Linked DNA regions of Homo sapiens: all the other regions are reported to be linked to region 1. Evidence: microRNA targets listed by miRTarBase, many of them from high-throughput screens and not tested one by one. Region 1 holds a microRNA gene; each other region holds the end of a gene's coding sequence.

Evidence for each region. Region 1 holds the annotated microRNA hsa-miR-1914-3p (GGAGGGGUCCCGCACUGGGAGG, at 3,834-3,855, opposite strand). A microRNA usually pairs through its seed, bases 2 to 8, with sites in the 3' UTR of a target mRNA and lowers its output. Matches are read on the target gene's strand: a 7mer-m8 pairs with bases 2 to 8, a 7mer-A1 pairs with bases 2 to 7 and ends in A, and an 8mer does both.
Region 2: miRTarBase lists WDR33 as a target of hsa-miR-1914-3p. The part of its 3' UTR that is shown has no 7-base or 8-base seed match.
Region 3: the mRNA of PPP1R10 is a reported target of hsa-miR-1914-3p. Seed matches in the 3' UTR shown: 7mer-A1 at 7,310-7,316 and 7mer-m8 at 6,885-6,891.
Region 4: the mRNA of ZC3H18 is a reported target of hsa-miR-1914-3p. The part of its 3' UTR that is shown has no 7-base or 8-base seed match.

What each region holds. Positions count from the first base shown.
Region 1 is chr20:63,937,641-63,945,492 of GRCh38, forward strand. MIR1914 (microRNA 1914) reads right to left here and starts at 3,904; the gene lies at 3,825-3,904. UCKL1 (uridine-cytidine kinase 1 like 1) reads right to left here. Exons shown (of 15, transcript NM_017859.4): 6 at 6,905-7,094; 7 at 6,757-6,818; 8 at 6,013-6,029; 9 at 3,470-3,568; 10 at 3,310-3,403; 11 at 3,154-3,216; 12 at 2,954-3,076; 13 at 2,738-2,845; 14 at 2,510-2,666; 15 at 2,189-2,415. The coding sequence ends at 2,336. MIR647 (microRNA 647) reads right to left here and starts at 5,086; the gene lies at 4,991-5,086. RefSeq lists enhancers at 4,678-5,391, 5,392-6,103.
Region 2 is chr2:127,703,674-127,710,631 of GRCh38, reverse strand. WDR33 (WD repeat domain 33) reads left to right here. Exons shown (of 22, transcript NM_018383.5): 19 at 776-939; 20 at 1,050-1,142; 21 at 1,740-1,955; 22 at 4,080-6,958. The coding sequence ends at 4,309. SFT2D3 (SFT2 domain containing 3) reads right to left here. Exons shown (of 1, transcript NM_032740.4): 1 at 5,390-6,958. Among named protein-coding and RNA genes, the nearest start is that of SFT2D3, 5.7 kb to the right of the region's middle.
Region 3 is chr6:30,594,116-30,601,759 of GRCh38, forward strand. It overlaps PPP1R10 (protein phosphatase 1 regulatory subunit 10), which reads right to left. Exons shown (of 20, transcript NM_002714.4): 20 at 6,298-7,543. The coding sequence ends at 7,434. Among named protein-coding and RNA genes, the nearest start is that of MIR877, 14 kb to the left of the region's middle.
Region 4 is chr16:88,628,600-88,636,451 of GRCh38, forward strand. ZC3H18 (zinc finger CCCH-type containing 18) reads left to right here. Exons shown (of 18, transcript NM_144604.4): 16 at 159-255; 17 at 1,886-1,982; 18 at 2,502-3,365. The coding sequence ends at 2,700. It overlaps LOC124903755 (a long non-coding RNA gene), which reads left to right and starts at 6,409. Exons shown (of 2, transcript XR_007065181.1): 1 at 6,409-7,852. RefSeq lists enhancers at 1-426, 4,834-4,903, 6,175-7,104 and silencers at 5,764-5,813, 5,914-5,973, 6,014-6,093, 6,314-6,473.

The DNA of each region.
Region 1 (7,852 bases):
GAGCCACTGCACCAGGCCTAAGTTTTTCATTTGATACAGTAGTAGTTAAGAAATCAAGCCGTGTGGTTATATTAGGTCTGGTTCATTTTAGCTTCTGTACAGAACAGTCACGAATTAATCACAGTCGGTCCTGGGCAAACTGACCACAGGTTTTTAGTTTCTCACTGTGGAAACAAAGCTGCCTGAATGTCGCTGCTGAGTTGTCTCGGGTGGGATCGCTGGGAGCGGGATCTGGAAGCCTTCCCTTGACTGGTGGCCCCACACTGCCCTGCAAAGAGGCTCCCCATCTTCTCGCTGCCCCTTCTAGCCTTAGCGTTGTCAGACGTTTTTTTCTGGCTTGGTCTTTGAATTTTCTTAATTAAGTAGAATCCACGTTTATTAAGTTCAGTTTTTTTTTTCTTTTTCCTTTGAGACAGAGTCTTGCTCTGTCATCCAGGCTGGTGTGCAATGGCGCGATCTCGGTTCACTGCAGCTTCCGCCTCCTGCGTTCAAGCGATTCTTGTACCTCAGCCTCCCGAGTAGCTGGGACTAAAGGCGCGCCACCACGCCCAGCTAATTTTTTGTATTTTTAGTAGAGACGGGGGTTTCACCATGTTGGCCAGGCTGGTCTCGAACCTATGTAGGCCTCCCAAAGTGCTGGGATTACAGGTGTGAGGCAGCGCGCCCGGCCTATGTTAAGTATTTTATATATGGGATTCTTACAGAGAAATGTTAACAGCAAGCCGAGCACTGGACACTGGGTGGCGGGCAGCAAGACCCTTGCCAGGGAGGGTTGTCGGCCCTGTTTCTCCTGGTCCAGGGGACCGCGGTTAACAGGCGCTGCGGCAAAACTCTCCGTCCGCCCAGCGCCCCAGGAATCTCCTCCGTCTCCAAGACGGGGTCGGACCACCCTCCCCGCTCCCCCCGGCTATGCCTTCCTTGCGCCCCGCTCTCCGTGACCGAGGAACGCCAGGAAGGGACCACTTCTAGCGCCAGCCCCGCTGCTCAGGGTCGGGTGGGGGGCGGGGCCAGCGCGGGGGCGGGGCCGGCTCAGGGGCGTGGTCACTCGGTGGGGCCCAGCGGGACCTGGCCTACCAGGCGGAGCGGGGGCTGGGCAGGGGCGTGGCCAATCGGGACCGGTGGGGCGGGCGAGTGGCGGGAGCGCTGCACCCGCAGATGGGCCCCCCACGTGGGGACCAGCGCCCACCCGGCCTGGTCGCATGGGCAATGGGAGACCCCACTGCAGCGCAAGGTCTCGCGGCATCTGGGAAGACCGGCCTTACGCCGTCCCTCCCTTCGTCAGCAGACCCCTGTCCAGGATCCGGGATCCGGCATAATCGAGGTGCCAGGCTCCGAGGACGCCACGCTTTTGGCCGTGGACTTCCACGCAGAAAGACACTGGCGCCTGAGAGGACGGGGACGACCGTGTCCCGTGTCAGATGCGCCTGGCCCACGGCTGAGTCCCCAGCATCAGCCCTCAGCTCCACGGCTGAGCCCCGGGAGGCTGATTCAGTTATCTGGGCCTCTCCGGGGCCCGACGTGTGGGCGCCGCGCGTGCACCTCCTCTTCCTCAGTAAACCACGGCGGCGACTCCTCTCGGGGAGCCCGGGGGGGGCCTGCTCGGAAAGCAGGGTGGGCAGGACCTAAGGGAACCCACGCTTGCGGGCGTGGGCACGGCAGAGAGCACGGGATGCGGGTGGGCCTCCAGGTCTGGAGGGGTGAGCGAGGCGGGCCCTGAGCAGCAGTGGCTCCGGGCTCGTGGGCCCCGGGTGGCCCCGCCTCCAAGCGCAGGCCCCCACTTCCGCCCTGGTCTGCCTCCTGGCTTTGCTGCCTCCAGCGACTTGTCCTGACGGGAAGGACCCTCCCCCCCCCCAACTGTGGGGAGGACCCTGATGGTACAAATTTGTGGGTGGGGGCAAAACAGCCTGCCTCTTGTGAGACCCAGAGCACCAGGGGGCCCTGTCCCCTCCCTAGGTCCAGGCCAGGTGGCCACCAAGCTATGGGTTCTAGGGGCCCCATCTAGCAGAGCTAGGAGCTGCAGGGCCCAGTTCTACCCCTTCCTTCATCTGGCACAAGTGCAAGACTGGGAATGCTTGGTCCTGCAGGGGAGAAGGCAGGGCCCTCAGCTCCCTCCCTCCCTCCCCATGGGAGTCTCCACAAATGCATGCCTCAGCCAGGACACCTCTCCTGTGCTGTAACCAATCACACCTTCATTTTTCTAAAGCTTTATTTATTTTATAAAATGCATAGAATAAATTATACTAGTAACATTTTAAAAATTAACATCTTTGTATTCAGCAGTCCTGGGTCAGGAGGCAGGAGGAGGGTGGTGGGGACGGGATGGCTCACTGGGCAGCTAACCCGTGTAGGCCACTTCCTCCTCGTCACTGCCATCGGGGACCGCGTCTGTCCCAAAGTAGCGGTCGCCAAAGTTCCCTGGAAAAAGGGGGGGGGGGGTCCAGTGTGGTGGGGCCTCCCAGGGCCACCCACCCTGCCCTCATGTGCGGCTGAAGGGCCCGGGCAGCCTCACCAATGCCTGGGATGATGCGGAAAAGGTCATTGACCCGCTTGTCCACCGCCGTGGTGATGATTCTCACTCGCGGAAATGCATAGGCCACTGAGTGCACGCCCATCTCTGCCATGAGCAGCGACAGCAAAAAGATCTTGTCCTCAGGCACGTCGTGGTCCTACCGAGTGTATTGGGCAGGTAAATCCCACCTCTGCCTGAACCTGCCCCGCCTACCCAGGGCTCACTCACCAGGAGCACGCGCACTGCCATCATGGCCGCCGCGCCCGTGGACACGGTGCAGTCCATGAGGATCACGTGGTCATCGCTGATGTCCTTGGGCAGCCTCAGGTAGTGGAGCTGCGGGCAGCAGGGGTCAGGCTGCAGGTGGGGCTCCCTGCGTCCCCTTGCTGTGAGCTCCCTCTGCCCCCTACCCCCGGGCTCATCACCCCGGCTGCCCCCAGGCACCTCGGGCTCCCCGGTAAGCTGGTTGGTCTGGATGAGGATGGTGCCGATGCGCACGTCTTTGCACACAGCGCGCAGCGCGGGCTCCATGGTTTCACCGGCGCGCAGAATGGACACACCGGTGATCTGCGGGGAGGGGAGGCTAAGCGCCCACATCCCGCCCCAGCAGCCTGTCCCGCGCCCAGGTGTGCCCAGGCAGGTACCTGCTTCCCCGCATAGCACTTGCCCGCATAGTCCTGCCCCTGCGGGGTCTGTACGACGCAGTCCTGTGGGGTGCAGGGTGAGGACTCCGGTGAGCGCAGGGAGCTCGCACCGGCTCCAAGACCCACCCTCCACCTCGCGGGCTACGGGCTACGAACCTGAAAGGGCAGGAAGGAGAGCGCGTGCTCGATGAGCAGCCGCATCAGTCTCTTGGAGTAGAAGATGAACTCGTCGCGACTGGTCTCCTTGTCCCTGTGGGGCCAACAGTTGAGCGGGAGCACGCGCCCGGGGCCGCCCCGTCCCCAGGTGGGCCCTCACCTGATGATGGTGTGCATGCCCCGTACCTGCGGCGTGCTCTTCAGGACGCTCAGCGTCCGGGGCAGCGGGTGGCACTGGTGTGCCGAGGCCAGCGCAGCCCTGGGGACAAACCGATGGGGAACACTCAAGAAGGGGGTCTTTTCCCAGAGCCCTCCCTCCCCACAGGACGGCTGTGCGTCACTGTGAGGGGAACACACGGGCCAGGCACAGCACGAGGTGCAGAGCGGGCCTGACTTCTGCCTGGGGCTGAGCTGGGGGGAGACGTCGCCCTACCTGAGCTGTCAGGCAAAGGCGAAAGATGGCGGCGAACAACGGGGCAAGCTCACCATCAGGCAGAAAGCTAGCGGGGTAGGCTGTGAGGGCCCCTCCCAGTGCGGGACCCCTCCTGCGCTAAGAGGAAGCAGAAGTGGGCCGGGCACAGGGCGGGCTCACACGTGCTGATAGGTGTCATACCCCAGAATGGGTAGCTTGTCCCCAGCCTCTCCCCGGGGGAACTAAAGCTTTGTGGGGTCAGGCCCCGCCCTGGCTCCTCCCCGAGGTGGTGCGCGGCCCCTCAAGAGAGGGGGGTGGGGGGCAAAGCTGGCTCAGTGTCTCTTGGCTGTCCCGTCCCGCCCCGCTGCCCAAGCCTGGGGATGGCCGGGGCAGCAGCAGGTCTAGGAGCGGGCAGGAAAAGGGCGGGGTGGAGGCAAGAAAGAGGTGGGACAGGGAGGAGGCAAAGCCGGAAAGGGGCATGACAGGGGCAGGGAATGGGGCGGGGCAGGAAAGGGGGTGATGCAGGGGCAGGAAGAGGAAAGCGACAGGCCACAGAATTGGGTGTGGCAGGGGAAGGAAAGAGGCAGGGCACGGAATTGGGTGTGGCAGGGCAGAAAAGAGGCGTGACAGCGGCAGGGAAAGGGGCGGGGCCGGGAATGGGGTGTGGCAGGGCAGAAAAGAGGCGTGACAGCGGCAGGGAAAGGGGCGGGGCCGGGAATGGGGTGTGGCAGGGCAGAAAAGAGGCGTGACAGCGGCAGGGAAAGGGGCGGGGCCGGGAATGGGGTGTGGCAGGGCAGAAAAGAGGCGTGACAGCGGCAGGGAAAGGGGCGGGGCCGGGAATGGGGTGTGGCAGGGCAGAAAAGAGGCGTGACAGCGGCAGGGAAAGGGGCGGGGCCGGGAATGGGGTGTGGCAGGGCAGAAAAGAGGCGTGACAGCGGCAGGGAAAGGGGCGGGGCCGGAAATGGGGTGTGGCAGGGCAGAAAAGAGGCGTGACAGCGGCAGGGAAAGGGGCGGGGCAGGAGCAGGAAAGAGGGCCTAGCGGGAGCAGCGGGGCAAGGGGCTACGGGAAGGCGGGTCACACAGCAGCACCACGGAGCACACTGCTCACATATCCCAACGTAGCTTCCTCTGCTTGCCAGGTGAAGAGCATGTTCAGGGAGGGAACAAGGCAGGAAACGGGGGTTTACAGAGAGAAGGAAGAGAACAAAGAGAAGGCTGCTTAGTTGGGGAGCAGGGCGTTCCCCGCAGGCCTGAGGAGGAGTGTGGGCGGTCAGGCCCCCAGCCCTGCCTGACCCTCCCTCCTGCCCCCGACCAAGGCTTCCTGGGGCTGAAGGAAGTGAGTGCAGCCACAGGCCAACACTTCCTTGGCTGACCAGACGACGGAAAATGTGTCTGGCTGCGTTCAGGTGTTTTTCCAAGTTTGAAACCCTGGAAAGTTTTTCCTCTCAGAACAAAAGCTTCAGGAGGAACCTGACGGGACAAGACCTGCGGGTTCCTAGGCCGAGGAGAGGGCCAAGCGGAGACTCATGCAGGCACCGGAAGCTGGACGGCTGGTGGACGGGCCCTGGAGGCATTTCCAACATTTGGCAAACTCTTTGGAGGGCTCTGAATGTGAGGGCTCTCCCTCCAGGTGGCTCAGTCAGGAGCCTCCCAACCCACAGAAGGCAGGGAGAAGGGCAGGTCCCTTGTGGCTGACCCCCCTGCATGCCTGCCCTTGGGGAGGGACAGTGGGATGCGGCCCCGGCCCAGCCCAAGCTTCTTGCTGCAGTTGCCCAGTTCCTGCTGGCAGAGCTGTGCGGGCTGCGAGGACAGAGCTGGGGCAAGCAGGACCCGGGTGGGTGGGAGGACAGGCGCGAGGCCCTCCACCTGCAACCAGGGAAAGCTGACTGGTCCGTGAGGCTGGGCACAGGAGGTACAGCAGGCTCCCTGGCTGCTGGGACATGTCTGTAGTCACTGCCCCAGAGGCCTGGCAGTGCTGGCTCAGGAGGACAGCTGTGCTCTCTGGGGTCAAATCCCATAGACAGACTCAGGAGTCAGGGGAGCCTCCAGCAAAGTCTGGCCAGGACAGGGTCAGGACTCCGTGACGCTGGGCAAGCTACTTCACGTCTCTGTGCCTCAGTGTCCTCATCTGCCAGCAAGGGGAGGCAGAAGCAGGGCTGGGACCACTCCACACCACCCCTTCTGTGACTGGGGAAGAGCCAGCTGCCTGGCTGGATCACAGCCCAGACCCCAGAGCTCCTTGGAGGTGTTGGAAGTGCCTCCATCTGTGCAGACAGCTGTGCAAGTCTTACCTGACGCTGAGTTCACGCTGTGGCAGCAACACAGGAAGACACAAGGGAACGGTGGCGCGTCAGTGACCAGGGCAGGCGGCCAGGCCACCCCCACCCAGGAATGGACATGCTGCAGGCCCGCGGGGACACAGCCAGCCATGGGGGGTGGCAAGCTTCTAATGCCTGTAACCTGGGGACCACCTGGGCCAGACCTGCAGTTCTGCGTTGGGGCAATCAGAGCCAGGACCCTGGGCTCTGTTCTGCAGGCCTCAGGCCTTCAACATCCTGGTAGGGAGTGTGTTCAGAGCCACTCAGGCTCCAAGGCCCAGCCATAGAATGCCTCAGGGAGCAGGGGACCTCTGGTGGGGGTGTCGCTCCTGGGGTGACCCCCTGAGAAAGAGAGGAGCCTGGCCTGGCGTGGGACTCAGCAGTGAAACCCCACAATCCTGGGCCAGCAGGTCATGCCTGTCTTCCCAAAAGCTCAGGCTGGGTGTGCTGAGCGGGCTGCACCCTCGGCTGGGTCCTGAGCACCTGTACCCCCACCCCAGCTTCCTCAGGGAACCCAGGCCCTGCACAGCACAACGGGATGGGGTCTGGGCTGGACAATCTGACTGGCCAAGCAGGCTCAGGACACTCAGGGCTGGCACCTGGCAGGGGACAGTGAACGCAGGGGGATGAGGTGACCAGGCCACTGGGGGTGGTGGCAGCGGAGAAGTGGGTAGAGGGGCTGGGGGCTAGGCCGTGGGGACGTGGGACCCCGCTCACCTCCTCCAGCTGGCTGTGCACGTGCTGCACAATCAGGTCGATGGCCACCGTGTTGCCGCTCCCTGGGGCGGGATGGGGGGGCGGGTGACCGGGGGCTGGGCCGTTGGCCTGCCCGACACCCACCCAACAGGCAGCCCAGCAGGCTCACCTCTGGGGACCACGATGTCTGCCAGGCGCATGGTGGGCTGGATGTACTGGTCGAAGGAGGGCTTGACAAACTTGTTGTACTGCTTGATGACACCCTCGATGTCCCGGCCGCGCTCACTGATGTCCCGGCGCAGCCGCCGTACCAGGCGGATGTCGGAGTCTGTGTCCACAAAGATCTTCATGTCCAGGAGCTGGTGGAGACAGCGGGCCAGTGAGTGGCCAGATGCCAGCAGTGGGCATGGAGACACTGGGACCAGCCCCTGCACTGAGGCCGCCTGGTCCGTGGGCCTGGCCAGAGCCACTTCCCCAGGGCACCCTGGCAGGTGGGGAGGAGTGGGGAGGTGGGGGTGTCTGCACCTGGTCCGTGGGCCTGGCCCGAGCCACTTCCCCAGGGCACCCTGGCAGGTGGGAAGGAGTGGGGAGGTGGGGGTGTCTGGGGATGCGGTGCTGCCCGTCAGGGGCTTAGGTGAAGAGGCATGGCATGGTGGCTGGCTAAGGAATCAGGCAGGAATGGGGCTGGGCACATGTGATCTCCTTACTTTGCTTGGGGTAACTTGCACCAACACACTGGGGAATGGGGGACGTGGCGAGTTTAGGGTCTGTCCCCATGCTCAGCACACAGTAGTTGGCCCGTGAAGAGGCCTTGTGGAGGCTGGGGGCTGCTATGTGCCGGATGATGGAGTCCTCTGGGCCTGTACAAGGGGCAGGACCTGGGCCCTGGGATCAGGCCAACCTGAGTCACACTCAGCTGTGTCCTGAAGGCCCCCTTGAGCTACAGCAAAATCTCTCAAACACACCAGCCCTGGGTCCTCACCTGTCCGTCAGGACCACGGCAAGGGACGAGAACGCCAAGGACACTCCAGGTATGCGCACAGGCCTCAGCCGGTGGAGAGGAACCACTGCCTCAGGCAGCCACGCTCTGCCTTTTGGGGCCGGCAGATGGACCCAG
Region 2 (6,958 bases), not on the chromosome of region 1:
CCAGTCAGTGTAGTCTCCTGGCTCCAAAATTCCTGAGAGAAGGGGAAGCTGTTCACTAAGCAGGGCTCCAGACTGCCAGCTAGCCAGTGGATCGCTGCCTGTAAACCAGATGCTGACCTGTGTGCCCATCAGCTGTGGACTCGGGCCATGAGTGCCACTCGTGGTCATGGAGGCCTGCCCCTGGGTGGAGGCTGTGGGCTGGGGCAGATGGCAGAGCCCCTACCTACAGACAGGTCCAGTATGGTTGGCAGACACGATCTGTGCCCCCATTTTTCTGATTATATGTCATAAATGTTCATCATACAAATGTAGATGATAATGATAAGTATTTGTGAGGCAGTGATACAGAACCTGGGCCGAGGGTCAAGACTGGCTGAGTTCAGATCACCAGCACTTACTCTGTGTCCTTGAATAAATGATGTCAGCAATCTGGGCCTCAGTGTTCTCATCAGTGGAACTGCTGATAATACCAGCTTCATATGGTGGCTGTGAAAATGAAATGAATGAAATGAAGTAATACTTGTATATACCTAAAAGCCTAAAAGAAGCTTAAAGTAACTCCACACTCTGGTGTGTTTCCTTCTGGTCTGTTTTTGCCTCTGATAGTATTAATAGGATTATATAATGTATCCTTTCAAAAATATATAGTTTTATTTTGTTTTCCTCCCAATTAACATTGTATCATGCTTTCTCATATCATATGCTTCTTTGAAACATGAACTTAGAGTGGCAAGGTGTTCTCTGAGATGGACATTCTGCTGTTTTCTCTTTACAGTTTCAGAAGAGGAGCCCCGCCGAGGCATGAGGGCCGTGCTCCCCCCAGAGGAAGGGATGGTTTTCCTGGTCCTGAAGACTTTGGTCCAGAGGAGAATTTTGATGCTTCTGAGGAAGCGGCCCGAGGACGAGATCTCAGAGGTCGAGGTCGGGGTACCCCACGAGGTGAGCGAGTTACTAAAGACACCTGGTCTGGAAGGATAGGGTGCAGAATACACTGGTTGTGAATACACCAGGAACAGTCTGAGTGCAGCATTGTTTGCTCTGTTGTGTAGGAGGAAGGAAGGGTTTACTTCCCACTCCTGACGAGTTCCCTCGCTTTGAAGGAGGGCGGAAGCCAGATTCCTGGGATGGAAACAGAGAGCCTGGTAAGGAAAAGAACCGCTTGTTGGGTAACTCTAGACTGCAGTTCACAAAGTGAGTTCTGAGGGCCCTCTCTGGGGTGCACCGGGTCTCCTCTTTCCAGCTCATGTCTCCCGGGGGGCTGGGCTGTCTCCTGTCCTGCAGCCGCAGCACTTGATCTCAGCAGGTGGAATGCAGAGCAGAGGAATCCGCCAGACATTACAGGGATCTATCTGAGTATAAAACGGGACTGCTCTTTCCACTAAATTGCTTTTGGAGAATAAAGTTAAGTGAATTAAAATTTCCCCAGTCTCAATTGCTAATATGGTAAATATTCGCAGTTACAACTCTCATTAACAAAATCTCTTAGGAGTCCTCAGTAATTTGAGACTGTAAAGACGTCTTGATACTACAATGCCTGAGAACGAGTTCTCTGGATCTTACCTGCCCCTCTTACATGAGGAGGCACCCTGATGTCTGGGTGGCTTACCCTTTGGCCTCTGGCGGGCATTCAGCATGAGTGAACGGTGGCTCTCGAGTTGCTCCTTACTCTCACAGTGTCATTCCCATCTACTTCTGGTCACACTGTGCTTTCCTGTAAGGAGATTTGTTTCTTGTTTCAGGGCCAGGTCATGAACATTTTCGTGATACTCCCCGCCCTGATCATCCCCCTCACGACGGTCATTCCCCAGCCAGCAGAGAACGCTCCTCTTCTCTCCAAGGCATGGACATGGCATCCCTACCTCCCCGAAAGCGCCCCTGGCATGATGGCCCAGGCACTTCTGAGCACAGAGAGATGGAGGCCCCAGGAGGCCCTTCTGAAGACCGAGGAGGCAAAGGTAAGAGCAGGCCAGTGGTTATGGTTCCAGGAGATGCAGGGGCCGATGGAGGCCTTGCCTGTATCTGCTGCACATGCCCTTGCAGCCTGGGCTGTGCAGAGGCACATGCTCCTAAATGTGGTGCCAGTGCCACACGAGCTGTCATCTGGTGGACTGCAACTCAGCCCTGCACAGGACTCCACTTGCCTCCGGGAATCCCTGTTCACTTGAGGTTTTCACTTCAGCCCTCTGCCAAGATGCCCCAGCACTCTCTGCTCGGCTTGCTGTCTGGGAGCCCTGCTCTCCTTGGCAGTCTGCCCTCCACAAGGCTGCTTGGAACCCTCAAGGGCTCTCAGTGGGAGGGGAAGAGTTGTCCTCTCCTGGGTGGTCTGTTGGTTTTTTTAGCCTGGGTCTAGAGGAACACTGCTTGTGCTCAAAGTCACAGAGACTTTGGGAAACATGGTCTATGGGCAGTGTTTCCAGGGGCACAGTAGATTATCTCCTCAACTGGGAACTGTGGAGCTTTATGTTATAGGCAGCACTAACTTTAGCCAGGAGTAGTTGCCTCTGAAGGCTGACTATACAACTCTGGTTGCAAGGCAGCGGGGGAGGTGCATAGGTGGTGTGGCTCGGAAGCTTCTGGGAAGGCTGCTCCCCGCATGCCCCAGCTTGTGCTCTGCTCCTGAAGTTGGCCTGTCTGTATGGACGGTCCTTCCAGTACAGAGTTCTGCCATTTGGTCTTTTTGGGTTTTTTTCTGTCGCCCAGGCTGGAGTGCAGTGGTGTGATCTTGGCTTACTGCAAGCAACCCCCGCCTCCCAGGTTCAAGTGATTCTTGTGCCTCAGTCTCCCCAGTAGCTGGAACTACAGGTGTGCGCCACCATGCTTTTGTGTTTTTAGAGAGATGGGCTTTTGCCATGTTGGCTAGGCTGGTCTCGAACTCCTGGCCTCAAGTGATCCACCTGCCTTGGCCTCTCATGAGCCACCATGCCTGGCCTGCCATTTGATCTTGATAGTTGTTTGTCTCAACAAAACCCTCAGAAATTACCTTATGTATCATCAATAGATCACCCTGCATAAACACATTGTACTACTAGCCAGTGTGCTGTGACCTTGGCTGACTTTCTTGGGCACTCAGCACACCATTATTAGGTCCCTCTGGTCAAGGACATGCAGTTAGCATGGGAATGATGTAGTAGCTGACACTCTGCCCAGGTGCCTCAGGTGGGTTGAAGCTGCACTTTCTAAGAAAAGAAGCCAAGATTGTTCCTTTGGCTGGCTCTCCTAACTTCATCTCAGCTAGATTCATATTCTATTACAAAATATGAGACAGCGGAGAGTTTGCAGTCATCTTCTGAGAGTGCATTATGGGAGATGTGACCAAATCCTATCATTTCCTGAGGAAAAAAATCTTACAAGATAGAATTTTTTTTCCTTTTCCTTTCTTTTTTTTCTTTTTTTTTTTTTTTTAAATATATTCTCAAGCTGCAACAGAATGAAAGAATTTTAATAGTACCTAAACATTTGTGCATACTAGTCTGAAGCAGGTTAAGCTGTGCCTCGGTGATAGAACCTGAAAGCCAGTGTTTTGTGGGGTTTTTGGGTTTTTGTGCTTTTCTTTTGTTTTTTCAAGAAATACTTTATTTTACTAATTATGAAAAGGAAGCCAAAAGTGCCACATGTCACGGGACAGTCCCAGTGAACGCTTGTCCTAGTTGGAGCACTTTTTATTAACATTAGCAGTGTGTACTTCCAAAGTTAAGTCAGTATATTCAAACCTTCCCTCAATATACCCTGGTGGCTGGGAGCAGGCAGATACACTTCCCATGGCCTGGGACATGGCCCAGTGTGGCCCGGGTCTCCCTGAAGGTGCTCCTTGCTCATCTCTTGGCTTCCTGTCGTCTGTCACACAGCCCTGGGGGCATGGATCTGGCTGATGCTGAGGCCCATGGCCATGAGCCAGGAAGGGGGAGGCAGGGTCAGGAAAGGGTAGAGGCACACCTCTCAGTACGCTGAATACCACTGCCAGTCTCCCTGGCACCCACCAGAACTGGTCCATTGTCATCAGAGAGTAAAGTTTGTACTGGGAGTTACTGACAAACAGTTGCTAATACAAAAAGTCCCATGTGAAATTTTCTTTGTTTCAGGCCGAGGGGGCCCAGGACCTGCTCAGAGAGTGCCCAAATCTGGGCGTTCCAGCTCCTTAGACGGAGAGCACCACGATGGATACCACAGAGATGAACCTTTTGGGGGCCCTCCAGGCAGTGGCACCCCTTCTCGAGGGGGCCGGAGTGGCAGTAACTGGGGTAGAGGGAGTAACATGAACTCTGGCCCGCCGAGGCGAGGAGCTTCACGGGGTGGTGGAAGGGGTCGGTAGAAGCTGGAACTGAGTACCCTGAGGCCTCTCTGGACAGTATGTAAGAACTTCTTGTGGACTCACCAAGAGAAACAAAAGGAAGCCTGCACCATTGTAGCCCTGAACTCTTTTCTGGGCACCTGAATCCCAGGAACCCTCAATGAGGTCTTCAAGATGAAGAGACTGCTGCCAGCTACCAGCCTGGCTGGCCCTGTCCTGTCCACCCTCATTGCCCCAACTCCCATGTTGTTTTGTGAAGATAAAAGCTGGGATCTTTTTCTTTTTTTTAAGTCTCACAAGACATGGGGCATCTCCACAAATTTAAGTTCCTGTCCATTTGGAAATTTGTTTCTATGTGTACAGTTTGTCAGAGAAAAACAAAGTTTTTGTATGAATACAGAATGTGATTTACGCAAGAATTGACAGAAAACTAGTTGTGAAGTGCTTGCCTTAAGGAAACCTTTGGTTTCCATCGCATCCCATCTGCCAAGGAATGCACGGTTGTTGCTGATGTTCATGAGCATATTAACCACTAGGTTATCTAAATTAATCTCAGCTGTGAACTTTGTGTTTTTCAACACATTCTGTCACACCATTTTTGTGACAGAAAAATACTTGAAAATTATTCTAATGTAGTTTGTAGTAGGTTCAAATTTTTATTCAGACATGCTCTGACAGATGGAAAATTGTACTCTGAAGAGAAAATGCAATCTTCTGGATGTCCAACGAGGGAGCTTCCCCTTGGAAGCATCTCCTAAGAATCACAGTTTAGGTTTGAATCGCCTTGTTATGATGAGGAGAGGAACTTGATGTTAGTCAGAAATAAAGTCACATGCCCTTTAGATAACTTGAAATCACACATGGAGTTGATAAGGAATGGACCAAAATAGGTCCTCAAACAATTTTGCAACACTTAATTAAGTTTTCCTCTCTTCCTCTTCCATACTATGTGGAAATACCAGTGTTACGGCAGGGCGTACTTCTAACTCACAGTAAGCCAGATAGATCTTGTCCATGGCAAATTCCTTGTTTAAAATAAACATACCATTTAGCCCAGTTTGGATTGGAAGCCAAAAATTCAGTTTGTTATATACCCCATGATACTTTCTATACTGACCTTTATTTTGGTTTTACATGGAAGCTTTTATTAAAAGGACTGTCCTATGGCCACCTTAACATTTCATTACATTGGCAGCTTCAGTTTTGGCATCAGTCAAATTTATTTGGCAAATTTAGTGGTGCTGGAAGTTTCTTTTTTTCTTTTCCTTTTTTGACAGAGTCTTGCTCTGTCACCCAGCCAGGAGTGCAGTGGTGCAATCACGGCTCACTTCAGCTTTGACCCTGCCTCAGCCTCCCTAGTAGCTAGGACTACAGGCATATGCCACCATGCCCAGCTAATTTTTTGTGTGTGTGTTTTTTGTAGAGATGGAGTTTCACCACTTTGTCTATGCTGGTTTCAAACTCCTGGGCTCAAGCGGTCCACCTGCTGTGGCCTCCCAAAGTGCTGGGATTGCAGATCTGAGCCACAGTACCTGGCCGCTGGTGCTGGAAGTTTCAATGGTTGCTTAGAAAAGGCATACTGATATAGTTTAACAGGATATGAAAATTTAACTGGTTCTCTATGAATGTAAAAAACAGCAAAAGCTAATTGATTTCTGTGGAGTGAGAAAATGTCAGCCATATACACTGCTTTTCAGTGTTAGAATCTAGAGACTATTTTTTTTTTAACTTTGAAATTACAGCTTATTTAATCAGCGCTCCACCATAAACATGCTATTAGGAGGCTCAAGATTGCTTTAGGTTATGGGTATTTCTTCACTCACCCCCAACTGGTATAGCTTAAAGAGAGAGAAACTGTAATCAAATTTCATGAAGCTAAAACCGGATCCAGAGACCAAACCCATATCAAGATTAGACTTTTTTTCCCTGAGATTCTAGTGGAAAAATTTTCATTATTTTGGGCTTTAACTTTAGAAACATAGTATCTCAGTAAGCAGATAACCAGATCACATTTAAAAATTTTCATTTTACCTTGAAGCTCTACTGGACTTGACAGATCACATTTTGAGAGTGAATTCATTTAAACAATAAACCTCTACATTATACTTATTAAATATATATGGCATTTAAAAACATCACTGTCAGCATACATACTAGATGTTGTGATTTGAAGCTTATAAAAAGTAGATTTTCAATGATGTTTGATTTGAGAAAAAATTTTTGAGACAAGGTCTCGCTGTTGCCTAGGCTGTGGTGCAGTGGTGTGATCACAGTTCACTGCAGCCTCAACCTCCTGGGCTCAAGTGATCTTCCCACCTCAGCCCCACCCCAAGTAGCTGGGATCACAGTTGTGTGCCACCATATCTGGCAAATTTTTTGAAGATTTTCTGTGGCGATGGGGTTTAACTGTGTTGCCCAGGCTGGTCTTGAACTCCTGGCCTCAAGTGATCCTCCCGCCTTGGCCTCCCAAAATGCTGGGATTACAGGTGTGAGCCACCAGCTGAGAAATGTTGAATTTTTAAGTTTTTATTTAAGAAATAAACATTGTAAAACATCATTATAAAACCCCCAACTATTGCAAGTTCTAGAGAAATTTAAAACTAGAACAGAAATTTAGGGGACTAGAAAGAGCAGCCAATGGCACAAGTCTTTACAATTAATTAAAAAAAT
Region 3 (7,644 bases), not on the chromosome of region 1:
TCCTGGCCTCAAGCAGTCCTTTCTCCTAGGCTCCCCAAAGTGCTGGGATTACAGGAATGAGCCACGGCACCTGGCCACAAACTTTATCTCCTCCCGTGTATGTTTTAACTTCTGTGATCCCTGTAGCCGATCATATGTGCTGTTAATGGAATTAATAATTCACCTAAATGTGGGCAAAAGTATGCCCTCCAAAAAGCAGCATAGAAATGGAACACGAAAGGGAAACATTTCCATGGTAGCGCATGGAAATTTCATTAACCAAATTAAATTGTTTTATTTATAAACAGCTTATTACCTACAAGTGATGCACATATGTGGTACACAGTAAACATCGTAGAAATGTGTTTTTTGTTGTTTTGAGATGTGGTCTCCCTCTGTTTCCCAGGCTGGAGTGCAGTGGCACAATCATGGCTCACTGCAGCCTCAACCCTCTGGACTCAAGTGATCCTCCTACCTCAGCTTCTCAAGTAGCTGGGACTACAAGTGTCCACCAACATGCCCAGCCAATTTTTTAATTTTTTTGTAGCAAAGAGGTCTTGCTTTGTTGCCCGGGCTGGTCTCAGACTCCTGGGTTCAAGTTATCCTCCCACCTCAGCCTCATTAAAGCCAAAGCCTGAAGGTAGGAAAGGAAGAGCCTTCAGGGAAGGGACCAAAATGTGCAAAGACCCTGAGGCTGAAAAGAGCTGAACATGGTCAAGGAATGGCTGGAGCTGAGAACTTGAGCATGCGCCAATACACACGGGGCCTTATATGCATAGACAGCAGGTTGGGATGTGATCAGGAGAGGCTGAGCAATGGGAGGCCATTGGTTCTGTTTAGCCAGGAGTGCAAACTGATTCAGTTTTCATTTTTACAAAATTGCTCCTGGCTGCTAGGTGGCAAATAGTGGGTGTGGGGAGACAGGGAAAAGAGATGCCAGGAGAACAGCTCAATATTACTTTGGAAAGAAGATTCTCTTCATCTAAGAATGGAATGGAAGGGAGATAATGTAGACTCAGATATTTCCATGTGAAGGGAAGGGAAAATGTTGCTCACAGTGGATGGGACTCACTTTTTCCCAAGCTTTGGTGCCAGAGAATCAAGAAGAGTAGGCCGCGCACGGTGCCTCATGCCTGTAATCCCAGCACTTTGGGAGGCCGAGGCAGGCGGATCACCTGAGGTCAGGAGTTCGAGACCAGCCTGACCAACTTGGCAAAACACCGTCTCTACTAAAAATGCAAAAATTAGCCAGGAGTAGTGGCACGCATTTGTAATCCCAGCTACTCAGGAAGCTGAGGCAGGAGAATTACTTGAACCTGGGAGGTGGAGGTTGCAGTGAGCGGAGATCATGCCATTGGACTCCAGCCTGGGCAACAAGAGCAAAACTTCGTCTCAAAAAAAAAAAAAGGTTTGCTGAGCAGCAGTAAGTGTAGAATCAATGCTAACATTAATTTGTACTGGGCTAAGATAGTAGGATTTTGTGATTTTTCAACATTAGGTCTACTGCCCAGGAGTAGGAATGAAAGAAATAGGATAATGATTCTGAATTGAAGATAGACCCCGTTGCACCTGGGGAAGGATTGACAGAAAGAGAACGTTGAATGTCACAAGGGTATTTTAGAGGGAAAAAATGGAAGCAGAAAGGAAAAACAGACTGAAACGGTAGAGAGAAAAGTGCCTGCAGGGAGGGCTTGGTGAAGAAACATCATTGTAGTGAAATGAATGAAATGTTCAACCTCTCTCCCCCTGCAAAAAAACAAAAAACAAGGAAAATCTTCTCTTTATATAATCTAAAGTTTTTACGTAAGTAAAAAGGAACAGGTAGGCCGGGTGCCGTGACTCACACCTGTAATCCCAGCACTTTGGGAGGCCAAGGCGGGTGGATCACCTGAGGTCAGGAGTTCGAGACCAGCCTGGACAACATGGTAAAACCCCATCTCTACTAAAAATACAGAAATTAGCCAGGCGTGGTGGCAGGTGCCTACAATCCCAGCTACTCAGGAGGCTGAGGCAGGAGAATCCTTGAACCCAGGGGGCAGTGAGCCAAGATCGTGCCATTTCACTCCAGCCTGGGCAAAAGAGTGAAACTTGTCTAAAAAAAAAAAACAGGTTTCTTTGAATTTTTTTTTTTTTTTTTTTTGAGATGAAATTTTGCTGTCACCCAGGCTGGAGTGCAATGGCACGATCTCAGCTCACTGCAACCTCCGCCTCCTGGGTTCAAACGATTCTTCTGCCTCAGCCTCCAGAGTAGCTGGGATTACAGGCACCAGTCACCACGCCCGGCTAATTTTTTGTATTTTTAGTAGAGACGGTTTCACCATGTTGGTCAGGTTGCTCTCGAACTCCTGATCTCAGGTGATCCACGCGCCTCGGCCTCCCAAAGTGCTGGGATTACAGGCGTGAGCCACCACGCCTGGCCGAATTTTCATAAATGATTTGAAAGAAAATGAGCTCATTCTTTCTTTTTTTTTCAGACGGAGTCTTGCTCTGTCGCCATCCTGGAATGCAGTAGCGTTATCTCGGCTCACTGCAACCTCTGCCTCCTGGATTCAAGCGATTCCCCTGCCTCAGCCTCCCAAGTAGCTGGGACTACAGGTGCGTGCCACCACTCCCGGCTAATTTTTTTTTTTTTTTGAGACAGAGTCTTGCTCTGTCGCCCAGGCTGGAGTGCAGTGGCGCGATCTCTGCTCGCTGCAAGCTCCACCTCCCGGGTTCATGCCATTCTCCTGCCTCAGTCTCCTCAGTAGCTGGGATTACAGGCACCCGCCACCACACCCACCTAAGTTTTTGTATTTTTAGTAGAGAAGGGGTTTCACCTTGTTAGCCAGGATGGTCTCCATCTCCTGACCTCATGATCTGCCCGCTTCGGCCTCCCAAAGTGCTGGGATTACAGGCGTGAGCCACCGCGCCTGGCAATTTTTGTATTTTTAATAGAGACGGGGTTTCACCATGTTGGCTAGGATGGTCTCCATCTCCTGACCTTGGGATTTGCCCGCCTCGGCCTCCCAGAGTGTTGGGATTACAGGTGTGAGCCACCGCGCTCGGCCGAGCTTATTCTTAAAATACAGTAAAAACTTTAAGCTCTCTTTTAAGGTTCTTGTGGCTTGTTGCAGGAGATAGAAGAAAGGTGAGAAGCAGGCAGTAAATGGAAGCAGAAAGAGACACAAAGTTGTGACCACTAGGTTGTGACATGTTTGGGTTTTTTCACTTGAGCTGTATACTTCTTTGGTATTTCACGCCCTAGCCTGGTCCTTAGATTATGTCTTCTCAGGTCTTCTCCCAGTGCACACAGCAACAACAGACTGACCTGAACACCTCCGCCCACACACACCAAGCCTGGGCAAGGGGAAGGTAAAACTACCCACTTTGGGCCTACATGCAGTGAGGCCTTTCAGATACTGATAAAACATTGTTGCCCCCTCATGTGGCCAATGCTGGAAATACAGCTGAGACACGTATTCCAGGGCAGTGTAGCAGCCTCAGCAACTGGGAATTTGTTAGAAATGCATATCTCGGGATCCATCCTGACCTACTAAATCAGAATTTTGCTGGACCCTACCCCCAATCTGTCTGTTTTTTCTTTTTGTTTTGTTTTTGTTTTTTGAGATGGAGATGGAGTCTGGCTCTGTCACCCAAGCTGAAGTGCAGTGGTGTGATCTCTGCTCACTGCAACCTCCACTTCCCGGGTTCAAGTGATTCTCCTGCTTTAGTCTCCCAAGTAGCTGGGATTACAGGCGCGAGCCACCATGCCTGACTAATTTTTGTATTTTTAGTAGAGATGGGATTTCACCATGTTGGCCAGGCTGGTCACAAACTCCTCACCTCAGGTGATCCATCCGCCTTGGCCTCTCAAAGTGCTGGGATTACAGGCATAAGCCACTGCATCCAACCCAAATTTGTTTTTTTTTTTCTTTCTTTTTTTTTTTTTTTTTTTTGAGACCAAGTTTCGCTCTTGTTACCCAGACTGGAGTGCAATGGTGCGATCTCGGCTCACCACGACCTCCACCTCCCGGGTTCAAGCAATTCTCCTGCCTCGGCCTCCCGAGTAGCTGGGATTACAGGCATGCGCCACCACGCCCGGCTAATTTTTGTATTTTTAGTGGAGACGGGGGTTCTCCATGTTGGTCAGGCTGGTCTCGAACTCCTGACCTCCTGATCTACCCGCCTTGGCCTCCCAAAGTGCTGGGTTTACAGGTATGAGCCACTGCACCCGGCCCCAGATTTGTTTTCTAATAAGCTCTTCAGATGATCCTGATGAATGCTAACAGACTTGAAAACCGCCATTCTCAACCCACATGTTAAAACATGTTAATATCTTCAACTGCCCCATATCTGCCACACACACTCCCCCCAGAGTGATGTATCCTTTCTTTTTTTTTTCAGATGGAGTTTCACTCTTGTTGCCCAGGCTGGAGTGCAGTGGTGCAGTCTGCAACCTCTGCCTCCTGGGTTCAAGCGATTCTCCTGCCTTCCGAGTAGCTGGGATAACAGGCGCCAGTAACCACACCCAGCTAATTTTTGTATTTTTAGTAGAGATGGGGTTTCTTCATGTTGGCCAGGCTGGTCTCGAACTTCTGACCTCAGGTGATCCAACTGCTTCGGCCTCCCAAGGTGCTGGGATTACAGGCGTGAGCCACCACGCCCAGCTTTAATTTCTGGTTTAAGAGTGGAGGCCAGGCGCGGAAATGGGGAAATGGAGTTTCCCTATGTTGCTTAGGGTAGTTTTGAACTCCTGGGTTCAAGTGATCGTCCCATGTGGGCCTCCCAAAGTGCTGGGATTACAGGCGTGAGCCAACATGCCCAGCTTTAATTTCTGGTTTAAGAAGAGTGGAGGCCAGGCGCGGAAATGGGGAAATGGAGCTTCCCTATGTTGCTTAGGGTAGTTTTGAACTCCTGGGTTCAAGTGATCCTCCCATGTTGGCGTCCCAAAGTGCTCGGATTACTGGCTTGAGCCACCATGCCTGGCCAGAGCCACTTTGGGAAGAGCAGTCTATACTTACCCTTTGTTTTTTTGTGACGGAATTTTGCCCTGTCACTCAGGCTGGAGTGCAGTGGCATGATCTCGGCCCACTGCAACCTGCACCTCCTGGGTTTAAGGGATTCTCCCGCCTCAGCCTCCGGAGTAGCTGGGTTATAGGCACCCAGCTAATGTTTGTATTTTTAGTAGAGACGGGGTTTTGTCATGTTGGCCAGGCTGGTCTCCAACTCCTGACCTCAGGTGATCCACCCACCTCGCCTTCCCAAAGTGATGGGATTACAGGCATGACCCAATATGCCTGGCTTTTTTTTTTTTTTTTTTTTTTTGAGACAGGGTCTTGCTCTGTTGCTCCGGCTGGATTGCAGTGGTACAATCATAGCTGTGAGTTTGAACTCCCAGGCTCAAGTGATCCTCTCGCCTCAGCCTCCCAGGTAGCTGGAACTAAAGGCATGTGCCACCATGCCTAATATTTTTTGTATTTTTTGTACAGACCTGGTCTCCCTATGTTGCTCAGGCTGGTCTCAAACTCCTGGGCTCAAGTAGTCTTCCCACCTCGGCCTCCCAAAAGTGCTGGGATTACAGACATGAGCCACTGATACCCAACACTAACCTGGCTAAGGTCACCCAGGCTGTAGAGAGGTAGAGCTGGGACAATGGCCTTTATCTGACTCCAGCATCCTCAGGATTTCCTCCCTTATCTGTAGAATGTGGATAAGATGACCAAGAACACATCCTAGAGGGCACGATAGCCAGGATAGGACTGTTCTAGGAACACACACGAGGCGTGTTAAAGAAGACTCAGAAAGATGAAAACCAGGAAAGAGCCCTGTGGCCGAGATCTACTCTGTATCCTAGAGTATTTTATGTACTTTTTGAAGCATTTTTTCACCAGTACTTAATAGCAACTGTTAGATCAAGCATTAGCTCCAGAGGAGTAAAAATCAGATTCCACAGATTTGTACTAATGTATCTAACACAGGTGGTAATGGCTTTTAAAAAAAAAAAAATGAAAAACAGTCCAGGCCGGGCGCGGTGGCTCACGCCTGTAATCCCAGCGCTTTGGGAGGCCGTGGCGGGCAGATCACGAGGTCAGGAGTTCCAGACCAGCCTGGCCAACATGGTGAAACCAAGTCTCTACTAAAAATACAAAAAAATTAGCCAGGCATGGTGGCAGGTGCCTGGAATCCCAGCTACTCAGAAGACTGAGGCAGAAGAATCCCTTGAACCCAGGAGGCAGAGATTGCAGTAAGCCAAGACTGCACCACTGCATTCTAGCCCAGGCAACGGAGCGAGACTCCGTCTCAAAAAAGTCCAAACACACTAGGGGTTAAATAAGCTGCTTCTCTTTCCACTGTTTATTATTAATGTACAAAATATACAAAACCAAAAAAAAAAATACTCATCCTCAAATCCATTTTGGCTCTAACCCAAGACCCTGCACAAAACCCAACCAATCCACTGTTTTCATAGAAAACAACTGATGCCAAAGTGAAGGAGAGAACTGGGAAAGGGCAAAATCATCTTGTTGAATCCACCCAGGAAGGCGCCTGGTGGGGATTCAGAGGTGGTTGACAGGGTGAAGTACCTGGAAGCCTCCTTCACGCTGGCAAGGTTCCAGGTGGGAGCAGGGAGTGAGCTGACTCCCAAAGGCAGTGCATGTAGTGTGACTTTCAGGCCCAGCACGCCGGGCCCAAGTTGATGAGAAGCTGGTCTCACTGAAGTATTTTATCAAGTCTCCAGACTGGCTATAGTTGGCAAAGGCAGACCAGCACCACCGGTCTCACCTCTGCCAGCTAAAACTTGCACCGGATGCAGATACGAGTTCGCCATCATCGAACCTAGCAGACCCAGGACGCAGACTGGGTGTTCACAGAAAGTTGAAGGTCCCACTTGAGAAAGGACTAAGAATGGTGAGCCCACGCTGGGGGAGGGGTGGGGATGATGTGTGTTCCAGAACTCAAATCCAGCTGATTGAGCCCTCTCAGTGCAGTGGGATATACAATACCCCTTTCAGCATCTCCCCACCCCATGAGGAATAATGAACTTAGCTGGGATGATTTCTTAAGTGCAGCTGATCCTGTGTCAGAGTTCTGTGTGCATGTGGGGACCCGCAATAGAAGGGTAGGGGTGTTCGCCAGGATAACCAGCTTTAGGTTCTCAAGCATTAAGGGTAATACTGGAAAGGGGTTTGGGGTACAGGGCGAATCTTCTCAAAAAGTGAAGCCAACTGGGTCTCCTCTTCAGCAGTCCAGGAACGTTTCCAGTCTCTCTCCTCCCCAGACTGGAGGAAAATATGTACATCAATGCGCACCAGTGATCAGAAAACCCCCAGGAACCCAAGCAAGTGGGAACTGAGGGGGCCGGCTCCTCATCAGCTGGGGAAAAGGGAAAATGGGCCTCACAGAAGCCATAACAGGGTGGAAAGAGCGAGGCTGCAGTCCACAGGGGTTGTGTGAACAGGGCAGGCAAATGGTCCCTAGGGCAGGGGGGGCCCATTGACACCCGGGTGGTAGAAGGCACAGTTGTTCTCATAGCGGCAGTTGCCCTTCATCATGAAATGTCGGCAGACAGGGCGGTTTGACATGTCTGTGGGAACGATGGCAAAACAGTTAGACAGGAAATAGCTGAGGGCAATGCCACCCTCACCACCCCTTGTCCATGACATCCTGAGAACTGTCTTTCAGAGA
Region 4 (7,852 bases), not on the chromosome of region 1:
CCTGGAGGCCTCACTCAGGGCTACGGGGTCTCATGGGTGTGTGGTGGGACCTTTGGGAGCAGAGCAGGTTGCTGGCAAGGAACCCATGTCCTCTGGGGCGAGGACACGGCTTCTGGCTCCTGGCCCTGCTGTCCTCACTGGCCTCTCTCTTGTCCCAGGCGGCTGATAAAGGAAGCAGGAAGCGCTATGAACCATCAGACAAGGACAGGCAGAGCCCTCCTCCAGCCAAGCGGCCCAACACATCCCCAGACCGAGGTGAGCCTCCCAGCCCCTAGGGGGCAGGGCAGAGGGACGGGAGCCTGGGGATGCGGAGCAGCTGGGTCTGAGACCCCATTGCTCTTAACAAGTAGGAGGAGGGTCCAGAGAACATCTGACTTGCAGATGATGCCTGTCGGTATTTAGGGTGTTGAAAACTAAAACGAAGAAAAGGTTTTAAATATTTGTTTAAAAATAACAGGACCGGGCGTGGTGGCTCACGCCTATAATCCCAGCACTTTGGGAGGCTGAGGCCGGCAGATCACTTGAGGTCAGGAGTTCCAGACCGGCCTGGCCAACCTGGTAAAACCCTGTCTCTACTAAAAATACAAAAATTAGGCCGGGCGCGGTAGCTCATGCCTGTAATCCCAGCACTTTGGGAGGCCAAGGTGGGCAGATCATCTGAGGTCAGGAGTTTGAGACCAGCCTGGCTAACATGGTGAAACCCTGTTTCTACTAAAAATACAAAAAATTAGTTGGGCGTAGTGGCGTGCGTCTGTAATCCCAGCTACTTGGGAGGCTGAGGCAGGAGAATCGCTTGAACCTGGGAGGCAGAGGTTGCAGTGAGCTGAGATTGCACCATTGCACTGCAGCTTGGGCAACAAGAGCAACTGTATTTTTTTTTACACATGTGCCATTTTTGCAAAATATATTTTCCAAAACAAATGAGCAGGAATGGCATTGGTTTTTCCATTTTTGCAAATCTCTTCAGTCTGGCTGACGGAAGACGGCTGGACCCACATGCCTCGTGCCTTCTGGAGATCCTCCCAGGCTCCTGCGGACTGAGTGACGAGGCAGATAGTGTCTATATTACTGTTGAACCACACAGACCTGAAAGGGCCTCGGGGACCCCCAGCCATGCTGACCACACCCCAAGAGCTGGGGCCCAGATGGAAAGACAGGGAGATTGTCCTGGCTGGCTTTGATGGGTGGAGCTCAAACCAGATAGAGGACAAGGGGGCCTGGCCACCCGCACAGACACTCCCAGACACAGAGAACAGGCAGGGGGCTTCCAGACCCCTTCCCAAGCAGTTCTCTGGGTTTGTCGGACACAGGAAGAGGAAGCTGCTCACCTTTGTCCCTAAGCCCAGGGCCTGTGCCCTGTGTGGCTGGTCTGGAACAGCCTTGCTGCCCTTGCCTGGGGTTGGAACCAGGGCCTCTGGGGTCCTGCGGACCTTTGTTCTCGCACCAGCCTTGGGCCTGCGCTGGGCAGTGGCCCCCCCCTCGGTTGCCGCGCCTCCCTCCTAACATTGCCAGAGTGAAACACTCCTAGTCTCTCGGCTTTGCTTGTATTTCTTTACTGCCATGTCTTTCTTGTTGTTCCGTATTTGAAGACCCATGTGATAAATTTCTTCAAAGCTAGGAAGGAGTTTTGTCTCTCTGCGTGAGATATTGGCTGCTTGCTGGAACCTGGGGCCCAGGTTTGGCCTCAGCCTCATTTCCAGATGCCTTGGTGCCCACATCTCTCTTCTCCTACTTGGCTCTCCCCTTTTTATTTCTTTATAAAAATGAAGGTGGTGAACTAAGCAGCCTCAGGCTTTAGAAGTGAGTCCCTGGCATCGGTGAGGCCACCCACACAGCCATTCCCTGTACATCAGGAGGGTGGTCTCACTCTGTACCTATCACCCAGGTTCTCGGGACCGGAAGTCAGGTGGGAGACTGGGCTCCCCGAAGCCAGAGCGGCAGAGAGGCCAGAACTCCAAAGCCCCTGCAGCCCCGGCTGACAGGTGAGTCCCACCCAGCATGTGCCCTGGGCACACCGAGGGGGCCAGCCCCAGTCGCTTCCCCAGGGAGGCCAGCAGCAGCAGGGCTAGCACTGGGCCAGGCTGGAGGCGTCACTACAGCTCCTGCTGGTCTGACGGGGTGAGGGGCATGGACAGCGAATTGCAGCCCCACCCCCCACCCCCCCCCACACACACACACACGCTCCTGCCCTGGTTGAGGCTGGAGGGTGCCCTCTGCTCCGCATGCCCTTGGGCAAAAGATCCCTGGGCACAGAGGTGGGAAGAATAACAGGAGGTTGTGCGGGGCCAGCCCAGGACCCTCCCAGTCTGCTCCACAAAGCCCGGGAGCCAGTGGCTAGGACCAGGCCTGCTTGTGGCAGTGGGAGCCTGGCCATCCAGGGAGCCCCTTGCCTGTCCTGGTGGCCGCTGAGGACACAGTGGAAGCGCCCCTACGGGGAGGTCACCCCTTCCACCTGCAGACGTGGCTTCTGGGGGCTCAAGGTCTTCCCCACCCCCTTGTAGGAAGCGCCAGCTGTCACCCCAGTCCAAGAGCTCCAGCAAGGTCACGAGCGTGCCCGGCAAAGCCTCGGATCCCGGCGCCGCCAGCACCAAATCAGGGAAGGCCAGCACGCTGTCTCGGCGGGAGGAGCTGCTGAAACAGCTGAAGGCCGTGGAGGATGCTATTGCACGCAAGCGGGCCAAGATCCCCGGGAAAGCATAGGCCGTGCCCCGACCGGACTGGACGCATTTTTATACATAGGGTAAGCGCAGCCATTTTGGATTTTGCAGTTAATGTCTTATTTTGGCTGTGATTCTTTTTAAAAAGTAAAAAAGAAAAAAAAGTTTCTCAGCTGGAAAAGAAGCCACACAGGAAATGACAACGACGCTGAATCCCAGCCTCCCTCCCCAGAGCAGAAGTCCCGCAGGACAGACAGACACAGACAGCGCTAGTGACCAGCACGGTTCTCATGTAAATTACAAGCCCCAGCCGCCAGCCCCGCCTTCTCTTCCTCCTCCTCCGTCTTCTTCCCTGGCCCTGGTCAGGCCTGTGGAGCCCCAGCTCTGGGTCCCTAGCCCGGGTCCAGGCAGCCAGGCTCCCTCCTGAGCTGAGAAACGGAACCTCGCGAACCACTGGTGGCACATCCTTCTCCTCCCCCGCCCCTGATCACCCGCCCCCGGATCAGAAATATATCTATATTCTCGACTAAAGTCTCATCAGGAAATATTTCCTGTCTTTTATTTTAAGCATCAAATTGTTTTAGTTGATTTAAAAAGGAAAAAATACAGAAAAGACCAAAAAAAGGCCAAGGGTGTTGTTGGGGCGTCTGTCTAATGTGGTGGGTCTTTTTTTGAGGGGTCTCCTAAAATAAAATATTTTGATAAGCAGCTGTCCTTGCCCTCGTGGTGTGTGCGCCCTCTGCCCATGCGCAGCCGGGGCTGCCTCTGTGTCGTGCACTGCACTCGGCCCAGCACTCGGGAGCCGCTGGGGGGCGAGGGTGTGGCTGTGCACTCACTCCCCCCGGGAGGACCGGCTGTGGAGCAGCTCCTGCCTTCAGACCCAGCCCAGGAGAGCATTGCGCCTCAGTTTCCCCATTCGTGGGGCTGGGTTGGGGCTTCCTTGGTCCGTGAGGTGGAGGTACTTTCCCTGCAGGGGCCGTGGAGCTGCTGGAGGGGAAGAGGTCCAGGGCTGACTCCCAGCCCCAAGCCCAGCTGCCACCACTGCAGTGACCACCACCGGCTCCGTGTGCAGGCCCCAGACCTGCTGAGCCAGGCCCCGCGTGTGATGCCACGTTCCACAGCAGGGGCCACCGGCAGAGCCCCCCAGGACCCACCGCTGCTGCTCCCTGCTTTCCACCTTGAAAGCCACAGGCCTGCGCCTGGGCAGCGGCCTCCCAGGTGCACGCTCCAGGGCCTCCAGCGCCTCCTTTAATCAGATTCAGGTAGCCGCGGTGTGGTGCCCAGGCCTGCGGCCCACCCATCTCCCTCATCTACTTCCTGACCCGAGGTTCAGGATGAGACCTCCAAGAGAGAGCTCCCTCCCACGGGGCCGCGAGCTGAGCCCCAGGGAGGCAGCATCCCGTGCTTCTGCTCCCAGCATGACCTGCGTCCATGCCACTCTTCCCCTGGATTAAATGACAATTAGAGTGTAGGCAGAGGAGCTGGGCGTGAGCGAGCACCACAGGGGGACCGCCTGTGCACTCCTGAGGGGACTGTTTCCCATTTTATGTCCACCTCCCTCCGATAGCGCAGGCCATGCAGTTCATCTTGTGTCCCAGCGGCCTGGATCATGTGTCTCAGCAATTTTTTCTTTTCTTTTTTTTTTTTTTTTTTTCCTGAGACTGAGTCTCACTCTGTCGCCCAGGCTGGAGGGCAGTGGCACGATCTCGGCTCACTGCAAGCTCCGCCACCCGGGTTCACACCATTCTCCTGCCTCAGCCTCCCGAGTAGCTGGGACTACAGGCGGCCGCCACTACGCCCAGCTAATTTTTTGTATTTTTAGTAGAGACGGGGTTTCACCATGTTAGCCAGGATGGTCTCGATCTCCTGACCTCGTGATCCACCCGTCTCGGCCTCTCAAAGTGCTGGGATGACAGGCGTGAGCCACCGCGTCCGGCCACAGTTTTTTGAGGCTTATCCGATTTGCCATCAGGTCAAAGCCAGGTGCAAGGGAATTCCCATTCTCTGAAAAGGGTGGCCTTCAAGGCCACAGAGCTGGAGTCCAGGCCACCCTGGGTGCCAGCCTGCAGCCTGTCATTTGTGAGCTGCACCATGAGGGCTGGAGGCCAGGAAATGGCGCTCTGTGCCCCCAGTGTGGGGCACCTCAAGCTAGCATCTGCAGTGACTGTCTCTTTACGGCCAGGAGCGGACAGGTGAGCCCACCACAGCTCAACGGCCAGGAGCAGACAGGTGAACCCACCACAGCTCACCTGTGGACTGGGACCAGGCGAGGTCCCCTCTGCGGCTGCTCAGCCCCCGGCCACAGCCCTAGGCACCTCAGTCTGGAGCTGGGTTTGAACTCGCACCGGGTGGCAGTGGACCCCAGGTGTGGCTACCCATCCCTCTGGCTCTTGGACACTGGTGCAGAGGGGCCTGTCCTAGGAGGGTGACTGCCCCCATGTGGTCTAGTGGAGAGGATGTTTGGTCAGGCAGCTGGGAAGGACGGCCTTGCTGTGTGACAGGCATCGATGGGCGTCCACGCCCTCCAGGGACGTCCTGCTCCAGGTGGTTGGCACTCACGTTCTCCTCGCTCCCCATGCAGTGACTAGAAAGCCTGTGTGGGATTCTGGCAACGGCATCCGCCCGCCAGCCCCTCCCAGGGGGTGCCCCAGGGCCTCTGCCCTCTGCCCGCAGCTCCTCCCCCACAGCCACGCTTCCACCCACCCGTTCGGCTGGGCTTTGGGTGGGCAGGCAGACGTAGACCCTGCTTGGAGGCGGTGGCCCTAGAGGGATCCACAGATGGGGAAAAGGCCGAGACACACGAGACCACTCCTGCCGGGGAAAACCCATGAGGGGGTGGGGGCGGCCGCGCCGCAGGGAGGGGCCCTCTGCTGTCCCAGCCAACGTCCCATGACGATTTTGCACCCCCGCCAGCAGTGCCCTCGGCTGGACACACCTGCGTTGTGGGCAGCCGGCAGCGCGTGACCCACTGTGCACCTGCGCCTTGATGTAGGGGGGAGACCCTGCAGAGAGCGCTTCCTTCCGCCCTGTCCAGTGCCCTCCCTGCCTCACCCCTCTTCCCGCAGGCCCGCTCAGGGCGCTGAAGGGCTCCTGACCGTGGGTCCGTCCTTCGCTGCGTCTGGGGGGCGTCCCCCGCGCTGCCTCTGACCCGCCCGGCCCTGCGTTTGTCTGAAGCCCCTCGTTCCGCATCTCCGGACCAGGGTCCGGGGGCGTGGTCTGCTGGGGGCGGGCCCGGGTTGTGGTTTGAGAGCCGCTCGGCCTGTCTGGGCCTCCGCCTCCGGGTCGCCCTCCAGCCTTCCTGCCGCCGCTTTTCCAGTCTTGCCCAACCCGGTATTTCTGCGCTTGCCTCAGCCACCCGCAGGAGCGCAGGCCGCCCTTCGTCCTCCCGTCCTCTGCGCCCACAGGACCCCGGGCCCCGCCCAGTCCGCAGGTCCCGCAGGTCCCCCCGGGCGTGTCTTCCTGGCCCTGCGACCCCCGGGACAGCGCTGAGAACACGCGGAAGGTGGGGAGACGCGCGGCGCTGGCCGGGTCCCTGGCGCCGTTCTCGCGGTGCAGCCTGTGCCTGGGAGTCCGGCCGTCCCACCTCAGAACCAGAGCAAAGCGGGAGATGGGGCGGCGGCCGCTGGGGAGAAGGCAGCCCCGGGTCGGAGGAGGAAGGAGGCGGGGGCGGAGCGGAGTCCGCGGTGGGGCTGCCTTCTTCCATCCTCCCCTGGGCGGGGCGCAGGATGCGGGGGCGCCCAGCCGAGGGAGGGAGGCCGGGGAGGACACTCCTGTGCCCGAGGGCTCCGGCTTCTTCTGCTCACTCCCTCCTGCCGAACTTTTCCACTCGGCCATTTACCTCCTCAGGCACTGGCTGCCCTCATCAGGCCGACCAGGTCCTGCCCGAGGGAACGGCGTGTGTGACCCACGTGTGGACAGACCTGTTCCCCATGCCAGGAGGGAGGGTCACTGGCTCCACCGGGGGATGGGGGACGAGGGCACTAGGCCGAGGTGGGGGGCTTCTCGCTCTCCCCGTCTTTTCCTGGCGTTTTCCTCCATTCCCTCTGGCTCCTATTCCCTCCCCCTTCCTCTCTTTCTTGGGTATGGTTGAGCAGGTCGTGCACTGCACAAGGACTCCCAGCAGAGGACGAGGACTGACATCAATTTGTCTTTCCCTCCCAACACTGTGCGTTCCCTAACCCTGCACGAAGGCACCCTCCTCCCCTCCTCAAGATTCCCCACCCGGCCTGGCCTGCAGCCCTAGCCCCAAGCCGCAGCTGGGCAGGTTGGGCAGAGCACTGGGGAGGCCAGGCCCGGCCATGCTGAGCCCGGTGACTCGTCAGGGTTTCCACAAAACATCTTGAGCACCCAGCTGCAGGCCCCTCGGGACGTTTCCAATGAGGCTCCCCTGGGCCCCTCTCTGTGGCAGAAGGGACCCCGGGGCTGCTTCGTAGGTCTCAACCCAGGGGAGGCCCCCAGAGACTCCGGAGCCAGGGAGGGGCCCAGCCCCCTACCCCCAGGCTGTGCTTGGCATGCAGAGATTGCGGGGGGTCTTGAGTTTTTGTCCCCAGAAGAATGGCTGAGTGGACTCTGGAGAAAAGACAAACACCCCTGCCCCACTGCCGCCGCCCTGTCTCCCAACAGTAAGAGTGCTTGTCAGCCTCCTGGCGGCAGGTGCTGCGGCCTGCGACCACCTGAGCCAGGCAGGTGATGCTAATGCGCCTCAGGGCAGCCCTGGCACTGGAGCTGCTATCATCCCACTGTACCCATGGGGAGAGCCGCTCTCCTCCCTCCTTTTTCCATTCTGTGTTATTTACAGAGCACCCTCCTGTATGCCCTGCACTACTCTCAACCCTGGGTACACAGATGGGGCTGCCACAGACGTGGCCCTCAAGGCGCTCAGGCCGCCTTTTGGGGAGGGCCGTGAGGGGCTGGAATTTTTCTGAGACAGCCAAGCGCCCGTGCAGAGAGGCCTGTATCAGCCCAGCCTAAGGCAGGGCCAACCCACACAGGAGCACCTGTCCTGCTGGGGATGCAGTGGGTTCTGCTGTGTCCTGGAAAAGGCTCTACCCACACCCTAACCCAACCTGTGAACGCGCGCTCATTTGGAAAAGGGGCTTTTGCTTTGATGTAATTAGGGAAAGGATCTTGAGATGGCTCATCCTGGGTTAAGGCAGGTCCCACGTCCTGAGAAGGGGGGAGGGATTATCTTTTAG